3 linked regions of the Homo sapiens genome follow. The protein of the gene in region 1 purifies or fractionates together with the protein of each later gene. This does not show direct contact. Each region holds a gene or a part of one and is shown on either strand. Other genes may lie near its edges. The genes, in order: CPSF2, DUSP3 and CSTF3.

The links.
Region 2: the proteins of CPSF2 (region 1) and DUSP3 purify together in Homo sapiens (affinity purification with mass spectrometry; one large-scale study listed by BioGRID and IntAct). This does not show direct contact.
Region 3: the proteins of CPSF2 (region 1) and CSTF3 purify together in Homo sapiens (affinity purification with western blotting; one study listed by BioGRID). This does not show direct contact.

Annotation. Positions count from the first base shown.
Region 1 is NC_000014.9:92,124,969-92,128,468, reverse strand, and holds part of CPSF2 (cleavage and polyadenylation specificity factor subunit 2), read right to left. Parts: intron 2,348-3,500; 5' UTR 2,289-2,347; intron 1-2,288. UniProt on the Homo sapiens protein: Component of the cleavage and polyadenylation specificity factor (CPSF) complex that play a key role in pre-mRNA 3'-end formation, recognizing the AAUAAA signal sequence and interacting with poly(A) polymerase and other factors to bring about cleavage and poly(A) addition.
Region 2 is NC_000017.11:43,772,345-43,776,073, forward strand, and holds part of DUSP3 (dual specificity protein phosphatase 3), read right to left. Parts: intron 2,595-3,729; coding exon 2,368-2,594; intron 1-2,367. UniProt on the Homo sapiens protein: Shows activity both for tyrosine-protein phosphate and serine-protein phosphate, but displays a strong preference toward phosphotyrosines. Specifically dephosphorylates and inactivates ERK1 and ERK2.
Region 3 is NC_000011.10:33,098,910-33,102,638, forward strand, and holds part of CSTF3 (cleavage stimulation factor subunit 3), read right to left. Parts: intron 3,431-3,729; coding exon 3,268-3,430; intron 809-3,267; coding exon 699-808; intron 242-698; coding exon 125-241; intron 1-124. UniProt on the Homo sapiens protein: One of the multiple factors required for polyadenylation and 3'-end cleavage of mammalian pre-mRNAs.

The sequences.
Region 1 (3,500 bases):
ACTCTGTTGCCAGGCTGGAGTGCAGTGTCACGATCTTGGCTCACTGCCACCTCCATCTCCCGGGTTCAAGTGATTCTCCTGCCTCAGCCACCTGAGTAGCTGGGACTACAGGCATGCACCACCACGCCCAGCTAATTCTTTTTGGTAGAGACGGAGTTTCACCATGTTGGCCACAATAGTCTCGATCTCTTGACCTCATGATCCACCTGGCCCATTTTTTTTCTTTTTTTTTTGAGACAGAGTTTCACTCTTGTCACCCAGGCTGGTATACAGTGGCAAGATCTCAGCTCACTGCAACCTCCACCTCCTGGGTTCAAGTATTTCTCCTGCCTCAGCCTCCCGAGTAGCTGGGATTACAGGCACCTGCCACCACACCTGGCTAACGCTATTTGCTCTTTAAATTCATGGCCAAAGGCCTCAAACAGGCCGTAAGTATTACCCTTCAATCTGACTTTTCTTAGTAGGTTGACTTTCAGTTTCTGAGACTACTACTCCACACCTCCTCCTCTTTGTTCAAAGATCACCCATCCCTCCCTCCACCCTAGTCTCAGCTGATAATCTCATTTCATTCTTCAATCAGAAAATAAAATTAGACAATAATTTCTCATTTTCCAGATACTACATCTATTAACCTATCTGCATGTACACTGTTGGGTCTCCTGTTGTATAGAATAGTCCTGCTCCCATCCAAGGCCAATCCCTCTATGTGTGCCGTTGATCCCATTCTTATTCACCTTCTGAAAGACTTGACATCTTCAGTCATTCGCTCTTTCCCCTGCATCAACGTATCACTGATGTACCATTCCCACAAGCTTATAAAAATACTCTAGAATTTCCCAACTTATAAGAACCCTCTCTTAACCCTTCAACCCCCAACAACCACTACATCATTTTTGGGTTTCCCTTTCACAGCAAAAGTTCTCAGAATATTTGTCCACAGATATATCTCCACTTCCTCACCTCCCATTTGCACTAAGTCTGAGAAGCCAGAGAAATGTCCATTGGCTTAAGTTGTATAGAGGTTTATCAATGACCTTTATAAAACACTTCCAGTGATATACTTTCATAACAACTCATTATATTTCTCAAATTTTCTTCTCTCTTCACTGTGACCAAAACCTCTAACTTTTATATATATTTTCCCTGTCTCTAATTTATTCTGAGTCATTCTCAGAGGTAGTCATTCTCTGACCACCCTAAAGTCCTTCTTCACATCCATTACAACATCATTCTATTTCCCTCAAAATACTTAGTGCTCTCTAATTGCTACTTATTTATTTACTTGCTTTGTCTGTCACCTTCTCCCCTCCTGTGCCCACACTGGAATGCAGACTCCATGAAGGTAAAGACCTTCTCTGTTTTCATCACAGTTACATTCCAGCGCCTCCACAGTGCCTAATATACAGTGGTAGCCGATAAATGTTTCTTAAAGGAAGGAATGGGGCATGGCTAGTATTAAATAAGCTCACTGTCCTTACCACACCATAAACCAGAACCCATCCACATGTATTTGCCCTTGCTTGGGAGAGCTCTCTGAGTACAGGAGTTGGCTTGATCCATTTTTTTATCCTTAGTACATTAGCACATCCCTGCACATAGTGGTTGTTCAATAAATAACTGTTGGTAAGTTAAAATTTAAAATATATTGACTTGTTTTTGTTTCCTGAAACAGGATCTTGCTCTGGTACCCAGGCTGGAGTGCAGTGGTGCAATCATGGCTCATTTGCAGCTTCAACCTCCTGGGCTCAAGTGATCCTCCCACCTCAGCCTCCTGGGTAGCTGGGACTACGGGCACGCACCACCACACTCGGCTAATTTTTTGTAGAGACAGGGTTTCACTATGTTGCCCAGGCTGGTCTTTAACTCCTGGGCTCAAGTGATCCACCCACCTTGGCCTCCCCAAATGCTGGAATTACAGGTGTGAGACAGCACGCCTGGCCTTCATGTGTTCTTATTTGGGGTACAAAGACATTAATTCTCTATTTGATGAAAAACGTTTATAAATACAATTTTGGAAAGGACCTTGGAAATTATCCCTGTCAAAAAGCTTACTGTACCACAATTATATTAATGGCCTAAGGGAAACTCTTTTCTACTTAAGTCTTCCTTAATTCCCACTTTCTTCATTTAGATTATGAAGTAACATGCAAGGTATCTTGCAGCTAGAACTGAGTAAGTTCATATTAAAACTGTTTTGCAGACAGACCAAGATTTCAACAGATGAAAAGATATTTTCACTACAATTATTCATAATAAAGCTATATCTTTATCAAACATTCACTACTTACTGATATCTTAGTCGTATATATGATGAAACACCAGGAATTCTGAAGAGTTCTTTATTAATCTAAAAAATAAATAAAAGCCTTATGAATGTGGTATTATGATTTCATTCTGTTTATAATTATGGTGTTTAATTTGTATCTTGCCCTAAGGCATCAGGAGCAGCAGCAAGTAGTATAATACGTGGTCCTTTTTTAAAAAAGAGATCTGTCATTAATTTTAGGAATCTTAAGCTTACATAACAGATAATAAAAGACATAAAAATATTTAGGAAGTTTTTTTTTAAGTTGACATTACCTTATGTTATTGAGAATCATAGAAGAGGTGGGATTTAAGATTACTCACTAAGGATTGGTAAGACATGGGTAGAAACAAAGAGAAGGTACTCAAAACAGAGGAGTAACAGGAGTAAAGGAATACCAGACATCTCAGATCTCTACACTTTTGAGTAAGTTTTAAAGTACCAGTGAAAAAACTAGCCTGGAAAACATTCACAAAAGCAAAAAATAAAAGATAAGGCCTAATGAACAGAAAGGGGCCAGATAGTGAAAGGCCTTGGAAACTGTGAACCTAGTCCTGCAGGCAACAGAAACATTTTAAGACTCATTATCAAGTAGAAAGATGGCATGATACAGGTAATTCTGTATTTTGGGGATATTAGCTGGTGTGTATGATTGATGAGATGATACAGAAAGCAGGGAGATAAAAAGCGAAAGTATTTAGTGGACCACCCCTTCCTAACGTTACTGATTCTATCTTGTGACCAAATTTCTTCAGTCTCAAATTGTATTTTATAGCTCTGCGACATGAATATATTAGTTGTTATCTAAGTAACCAAGGTTTGAAATGCTACATGCTGATTCTTCACTTCTGGGACAGTCTATTATTACCAGTTCCTGATTATTCTTCCCTCAGGAACGCTTTGCACATCATTCCCTTTCTATCCCACTGCCAGTACCCTAATACAGGAAGGGCCTCACTACCTTATGTTTGGGTTTCTCAGTTTCTCTGCCTCCAGTATTTCCTCCCTTCATCCAACCTAAACATTGCTACCAGATTCATCTTCAGAAATACCCTGCACCTATTACCCCTTGCTCAGAAATCTCTGAAGGCTTCTTACTGCTTGAGAAAAGACAAACCAAATGCCTTAACTGGCAATGGAGGTTGCCAGGAAGCCACCCTGACATCACTGCTCAATGTCTTCAGGCCCAGCTCAT
Region 2 (3,729 bases), on another chromosome or scaffold:
TAGGAATGAGACCCTCTGCAGAGCAGCCACCTTACCATCTAGAACATACTCTGCATGCCCAGTGCACACAGAGCCTACTGGGAAAGGGGCCAGTTCAACCTCCCATTCCTCTAGGCTCAGCCCAGATGCCACCTCCTCCATGAAGCTGTTTTCCCAGCTAGAAGTGACTGCTCCCTCTTGAGTACCCTCAGCCATCCCACCCAGCTCTCAGTGATGGGTCCCTGGGCCCCACACACTGTTGGAGGCCAGCATGTTTCTGTTGACTCACTTCGCCACTCATTCTTAGAAGCATTTATACTTGGCATTAGAGCCCATGGAATTCTTCATCACTTGCTCATTCATCATTTGCAGTGTACCTACTATGTGCCTGATGCTACATCAGGTGCTAAGGAGACAGACAAGGAACAAAGTAGACCCAGCCTGAGGGCAGGCTTCATGGAAGAGAGGACACCATGCCAAGGACAAGGTGGAGTTTGCCAGAGGAAGGGGTAGGGAGAGGCAGAGAGAACTTTTCAGACTAAAGACCCAGCACACCTGGACTGAGACAGGTCAAAAAAAGGGCGTGTTCCTAGTTGTTTGGAAAGAGGAAACAAAGTCAGAGAGCTTGAAATTCCCTGAATGAATAACCAATTGCTATTATACGAGAACAACAAAATCCTTCCCCTTCGCCCAGCCTATGTTTACACAGGGTGAGGAACTCAGTACAGCTGGAGTGGAGGAGGTGAGCAGGGTTGGGGGGTGACAGTGACCAGGAAGGACCATGAGGGGCCTGTCAGCAAAGTCTGCAGATACTCCACAGTAAAGCTTCTCTCTGAGCCCTGAGCGTTCACTGTCCAGTGGTCTAGAAAATTCTGTTTACTGGAAATCATTCAGACAGTGAGCCTGCTGGGCCCAAGAGTCATCAGTGTAGTACAGCCAAGGCTGTTCACACCTCATGGGGGTCCCCTCCGCTGGGAGGGTTTGGGGTGGGGAGAGACGAAGAGGTAAAGGGAGGAGCTGAGAGAAACAGCTAAAAGCAGAAAGGGAGAAAGGGCAAGTGGCCCAGCCTGCTCAGCTGATGTCTGCTTTGTGGCCTTCTAGGGTTTCTTGCTGGAATGCCTTGGTGACTGCCAGCGCCTTGGTAGTTCTCCTTCAGTCTTATCTTATATTTGGGGGCTGCAGGAAGTGTTTCGTAAGTGGCTGGAAGATTTGGCCAGGGGGGCTGTGGTTTGCTGACTGCCAACCTAAGCTGACCGCAGCTACCCCTTTTCTCCTTGCCAGGCAATCACGTGAATCTCTAGCCAATGAGATGTGAGGGGTATTTCTGGGAAATGTTTTACTTGTTCTTAAAGAGAGAGACTGGGCATGGTGGCACGTGCTTGTAGTCCCAGCTACTCAGGAGGCTGAGGTGAGAGGACTGCTTGAGCCCAGGAGTTGGAGACCAGTCTAGACAACATAGCAAGACCCTGTCTCTTTAAAAAAGAGAGAGAGAGTGGCCAGGCGCGGTGGCTCATGCCTGTAATCCCAGCACTTTGGGAGGCAGAGGGAGGCGGATCACCTGAGGTCAGGAGTTGGAGACCAGCCTGACCAACATGGTGAAACCCCATCTCTACTAAAAATACAAAATTAGCCAGGCGTGGGGGCGCATGCCTGTAATCCCAGCTACTTGGGAGGCTGAGGCGGGAGGCTGAGGCAGGAGAATCGCTTGAACCTGGGAGGTGGAGGTTGCGGTGAGCCAAGATCGCGCCATTGCTCTTCAGCCTGGGCAACAAGAGTGAAACTCCATCTAAAAAAAAAAAAAAAAAAAAAAAAGGAGAGAGAGAAGAGGAAAAAAAAGAGTGGGAAGAGATGGCTGCAGGGCCTCATCTGCTGTACTTTGTCCTGCTTGGATGTGGTGACTGGATCCCATCTTGGGACCATGACGGGAGCACCCAACACTGAGGTGGCAGAAGAGAGAAAGGGAAAGGGCCTGGTCCAGAGGCCACCATGGAGCTGCTGAATCAAGCAGCCCCTTAATCAACCAGCCCCCATGCTCCTTCACCTCAGGACTTCTTGCCATGCACATTAACACATTAACACATCTTCCTCATCGTTACAGCTGTTTGAATGGGGGACGTGTAAGCAACTGGAAACCAACCTCCAGCCAAAGTGCAGTCAAACGCGAGGACCCTGGGGCTGCCATGGTGTGAATGAGTTGCACATCCTGTGACACACGGGGCCACTTGACAGCCAGCCAGGTGAGCAGAGAGAGACCTACAGCTCTGTCGTTCACCCCAGAAGATGGGAAACAAGGGAGTTTCTAAGAAGAGACCTGTTGTGGGCCTGTTTTCCAGAGGGACAGTCCAGTCAGAGCTGCCTCCCATCTTTTCCTGGTGGGAGGTCCCTTACCATTCTTTTGAGCCAAAGCCTGGTCAATGAAGTCGGCAGCCCTTTCAAAGTAAGCGCTGAGGTTGAACTCCTGTGTGTCGTTGGCCTTGATGCCCAGGTATGTGATGCCGGAGTCCTTGTAGAAGTTGGCATTGGTGTTGACGTGCATGAAGGACCTGCCCTCAGCCGCGTTCAGCACATGGGTGATGCCTAGTTTCTGCAGCTTGGGGATGTCCTGAGCCACAGACCTGGACAGGAGACAGTGGTGGGGATGATTAACCAACCAAATGGCAGCCCCAGGGGGAGGAAGATGGAGAAGGATTTAAGCCTCTTAGCAAAGCAAGGAAACCCTCCATGCTCTGGCCCCTGCCAGCTTCTCCTGCCTCATCTTATGACCTCTTCCCTCACTCTGGCCATATCGAATTGCCAGCAGCTTCCCCAAATAGACTGGTGGTTTCATAGCCATGCTGTCCCCTCTGTCTGGAATGCTCTTTCCCACCTTCTCTGGAGAAATGCGCCCTCTCATCTTTCACACCCTCCGCAGTGTTTGTCTCCCCTCCATTCCATTTGGCCCCATGCTCCCTAAGCTGTGGTGGGGGTGTACATAGCCAACTGGTTACAGATGGGCTCTGGAACCAGACTAACTGGGTCTGCATCCTGCCCAGGTACTAGCCAGGCAACCTTAAGCAAGCCATTTAACCTTTCTGTGCCTCAGTTTCCCTCTCTGTAAAATGGGGATAACAGTGCCTTCTCCTTGAGGTTGTTATGAGTATTAAATGGGCTATTCCATTGACAGAGCTGGACACGGTAGTGAGCACTATGATTCTAATGCTTGATTGTGCTTCTGTGTTTAGACATCCAGACTGTGAGCTCCTTGAGAGAGGAACCATGTCTGCTTTAAGTCTGTTTCCCCACCATCTGCTATAGTACCTGCTACATAGTAGGTGCTGAATAAATAAGCGGTGAATGAGTGCAAAAGAATAAATTTGTCACGTACCAGGCAGCCCCCTCCCTGCCCCCAGAGGGATCCTACCTGCCACATTCCACTGGCTACGTTTCCAAAGCTCTTTTGGGTGATTTAGTACTTGGGGAGTAAGTGGCCCCAACAGAACTATGGGAGGTTACAAAATAATTTATCTAAGGTCGGGTGCAGTGGCTCACACCTGTAATCCCAGCACTCTGGGAAGCCGAGGCAGGTGGATCACCTGTCAGGAGTTCGGGACCAGCCTGGCCAACATGGTGAAACCCCGTCTCTACTAAAAATACAAAAGTGAGCCGGGTGTGGTGGTACATGCCTGTAATCCCAGCTACTCTGGGATTACAGAGGCTGAGACAGGAGAATCACTTGAACCCGGGAGGTGGAGGTTGCAGTGTGCTGAGATT
Region 3 (3,729 bases), on another chromosome or scaffold:
TGTTCATTTGGCATCATCTCTGTCTACCAAAAGCAATATGCCTGGCAAACAAGCAGCCAGAAAAAAAGTTCAGTCCTGCACTAAAAAATTGAATTATAAGAAGGCTCTAAACATTTTTACTTACCTCTTCATAATCTGCATATGCAAAATAAAGAAGCATATTCTTCTTCAATAAAGTGCTTATGGCTCTTTCATATATATTAGCAGCTTCATCACTAAATAATTTGGCATTATTCATATCCTGGTAGAAAAAAAAGAAAGCTCATCTTCAATAATTTTAATATAGTTGTGAGAGAATAAAATTAATAAAGTTACATCTACTTTATTTTATTTATGTGTCTAAGAAAGCATACATGTATGTACACACATATATATGTATCCACACACACACATACATAAACACATATGCATTTCTGGATTCTAAAAAAATTCCAAAAACTCCTTTCATTATTTTAACTTACAAAATAACCATGCAAGTACTCTAAATGATTCATTACTTTGATACGTTAAAAAACTGCCAGTTTATTTTAATTCTAAGGAGGTCTAATTATATGAGTGTCACTAAGATTCATATGAACGTAAACTTAAATTTTCAATACTTATGCTTTATTACCAAAATTCAGTTATATTTTTCAGTAAATAATTGCTATATCAAAACCACAAAAATATCAAAGTGGGGATAGGGAAGGAACACTTACTCCCTTTTCTGCGAGCAGTTTACTTGACTGCTCAAGATACTGGGCAGCTTCATACCAAATATCAGGGTGATGGCCCAGCACAAGCAGGCACTGTTCATAAGCAAACATAACTAAGGGAAGAAATTAACAAACAATATTCAATTAAAATAATTATTATTTGTAAAACTATCAATGTAAATATCATAACCAAATTAGGCTCCTCAAAAATTAATGATAATTAGAAATAAAAAGCTTTAGTGATTTCTGGCACCATCATCCATCCAAGTTCCCTCCATCTATCCATCACTTATTAATTTTTTTTATTTTTGGAAGCAGGGTCTCTGTCACGTAGGCTGGAGTGCAGTGGCACAAATATGGTTCACTGCAGCCTCGACCTCCTGGGCTCAAGTGGTTTTCCTGCCTCAGCCTCCCAAGTAGCTGAGACCAGGCGTGTGCCACCACATCTGGCTTATTTTTAAAAATCTTGTGGCCAGGTGCGGTGGCTCACATCTGTAATCCCAGCACTCTGGGAGGCCAAGGCAGGCGGATCATAAGGTCAGGAGATCGAGACCATCCTGGCTAACATGGTGAAACCCTGTCTCTACTGAAATACAAAAAATTAGCCAGGCATGGTGGTGGGTGCCTGTAGCCCCAGCTACTCTGGAGGCTGAGGCAGGAGAATGGCATGAACCCGGGAGGCACAGCTTGCAGTGAGTGGAGATCACGCCACTGCACTCCAGCCTGGGCAACAGAGCAAGACTCCATCTCAAAAAAAAAAAAAAAAATCTTGTTTAGAGACGGGGTTTCACCATGTTGCCAAGGCTTGTCTTGAACCCCTGGGCTCAAGCAATCCTCCTGCCTCAGCCTCCCAAAGTGCTGGGATTACAGATGTGAGCCACTGCACCCAGCCTAAGTTAATACTTATTGAGCACCAACTATATGCCAGGGAATGTGGAAGGCACGGTGAATATACCAGTGAGTAAGACTTCCTATATTCAAGAAGTCTGCAGTATACGGGGAGGACAGACAGAAAGCAAAGATCAAAAGGATTATGATGATGAAAGTACAGTATACTCTGAAAACTTACAGCAGCAGGACTTAACATAGTTTAGGGACTCAAGAAAGGCTTCACTAAGGAACTGACATCTAGCACAACACCTGAAGAAGGGATGAAGCTGGTCAGAGGCAAATAAGTGAAGTGGAGTAAGGATGGGGTAGATACAAAAATGGAGTGGGCAAAGGAAACAATATTTGCAAAGACCTGCAAGTAAGATAGCAAGGCAACAGCAAGGCAAGATTGAGGAATTCAATAAAGCTCCAAATTAAGAGTCTGGCACTGACAGAGTAGTTTGTATCAGACCAACCCTCAGCAAGTAAAAATTATAAATAAACAAAACACAAATACAAAAGCAACTATCTAAATGTACTGGAAATGACCAAAAGAAGCAGAAATCAGGAGACTGAGCCCTTAAAAAGACAGAACAACACTAGGTGAGATCCATATTTAAATATGGCTTTTCCCTTCAAACGCATGCCCATGTTGTGCACTTCTGGGATAGCTAGAACTCAAGTCAAATGCTGCAGTCTTACTGTCTTGAAGTAACATGGAGTTCTGGCCTATGAGAGCAGCTGGAAATTGAGGAGACATCCCCAAAAGGAGAAAGCCAGATCCCGAAAATCTGGGCATAAATGTTCTCAAATCCTCAGCTGATCCCTAAAATGTACATACACAGGGAAGAATACAAACAGACCAGCAGAAAACAAAGCTGGAAGGCAGAAAGAGTTAAATAGATACCTCAGCAACTAAGGGAGATGAAGTTTAGAATTTGAGTCCGATCCAATTAGATGGTTGGGGTAAACACCTTAGACTTTTCATTGTCTTAGGAGTAAAGACTATGTCCCAAGAATAAGGTATTTAATCTGAGATTAATGGTAAAACTAAAACAGACCTGTCTTCATAGTATAAAACTAAGCCTCCACAAAGTCCAAGTAATCTGACAGTAGTATTTAACTTCCTGCTAAAATAAAACATTCTTCAGAGGAAGATGACAGAATCTACAGTCTTTACAATGTTTCATTTGTACATTTGTACAATATCTAAAAGAAAAAATTTAAACAGGAAATAGGGAAATGTAAACCACAGTCAAGAGAAAAAGCAATCAAAGAAAATAAACTCCATGGTGGTTGAAGGCCCAGATGTTGGAATTGGCAGATGAGGACTTTATAACTACTATTATAAATATGTTCTAAGAAACAAAGAAAAAGATGGTAATGAACACACAAGGAATCTCAACTAAGAAATGGACACCATAAAAAAGAAATATAAAAAATAAAAAATTTCTAAAATGGAAATTTATAGAATTGAAAAATATAGTATCTGAAATAAAGCGTTCACTGGATGGGCTTAATTGCAGACTGCATATGATGAAAACAAAGGTTCAGTGAATATGGAGATAGATCTATAGGAATTATTGAATCTGAAGAACAAAAGAAAAAAAGATTAGGGGTAAGAAAATTTTAGTAACCTATGGGGATACCAAGTGGCCTAACATACATGTAACTGAAGTCCCATGAGGGTTAATCATGTTACCTCTTTTTGTTATAAGGGTCTGATCCTCTGTACGAAGAGGGTTGCTCTTTTCCCACTGTATATATTTCTTCCACATATCTACTTGTTGAGCTTCTTGAGGAGTATTCTGAGGAGGCACCGAGGGAGCATTACGGTCCAAGCCTTTCATTACTGTCTCATATTCCTAGACAACAAGGATTTAGAATTCTTTGGTGAGCCAGGAACAACTGAGATATATGGCGGATGGGGTAGATCAGTTTGGAAGACTGTTCAAGATGCCTACTTTTTCCAAATACCACTTTGTTAATATAATCTAAAAACTATTTAAGAGTAGAGAGAAAGATAAGAGTATTACCCACTCAAGAACAGGTTCCCAGGAGTGGGTAAACAAAACACCCATGGGCCCTCTCTGTAAGTGATCTAGGAGGTTACTTTCCAGGATGTAAGAGTTGACAGATCAATAGGATTGAAGATCTGGTGGCA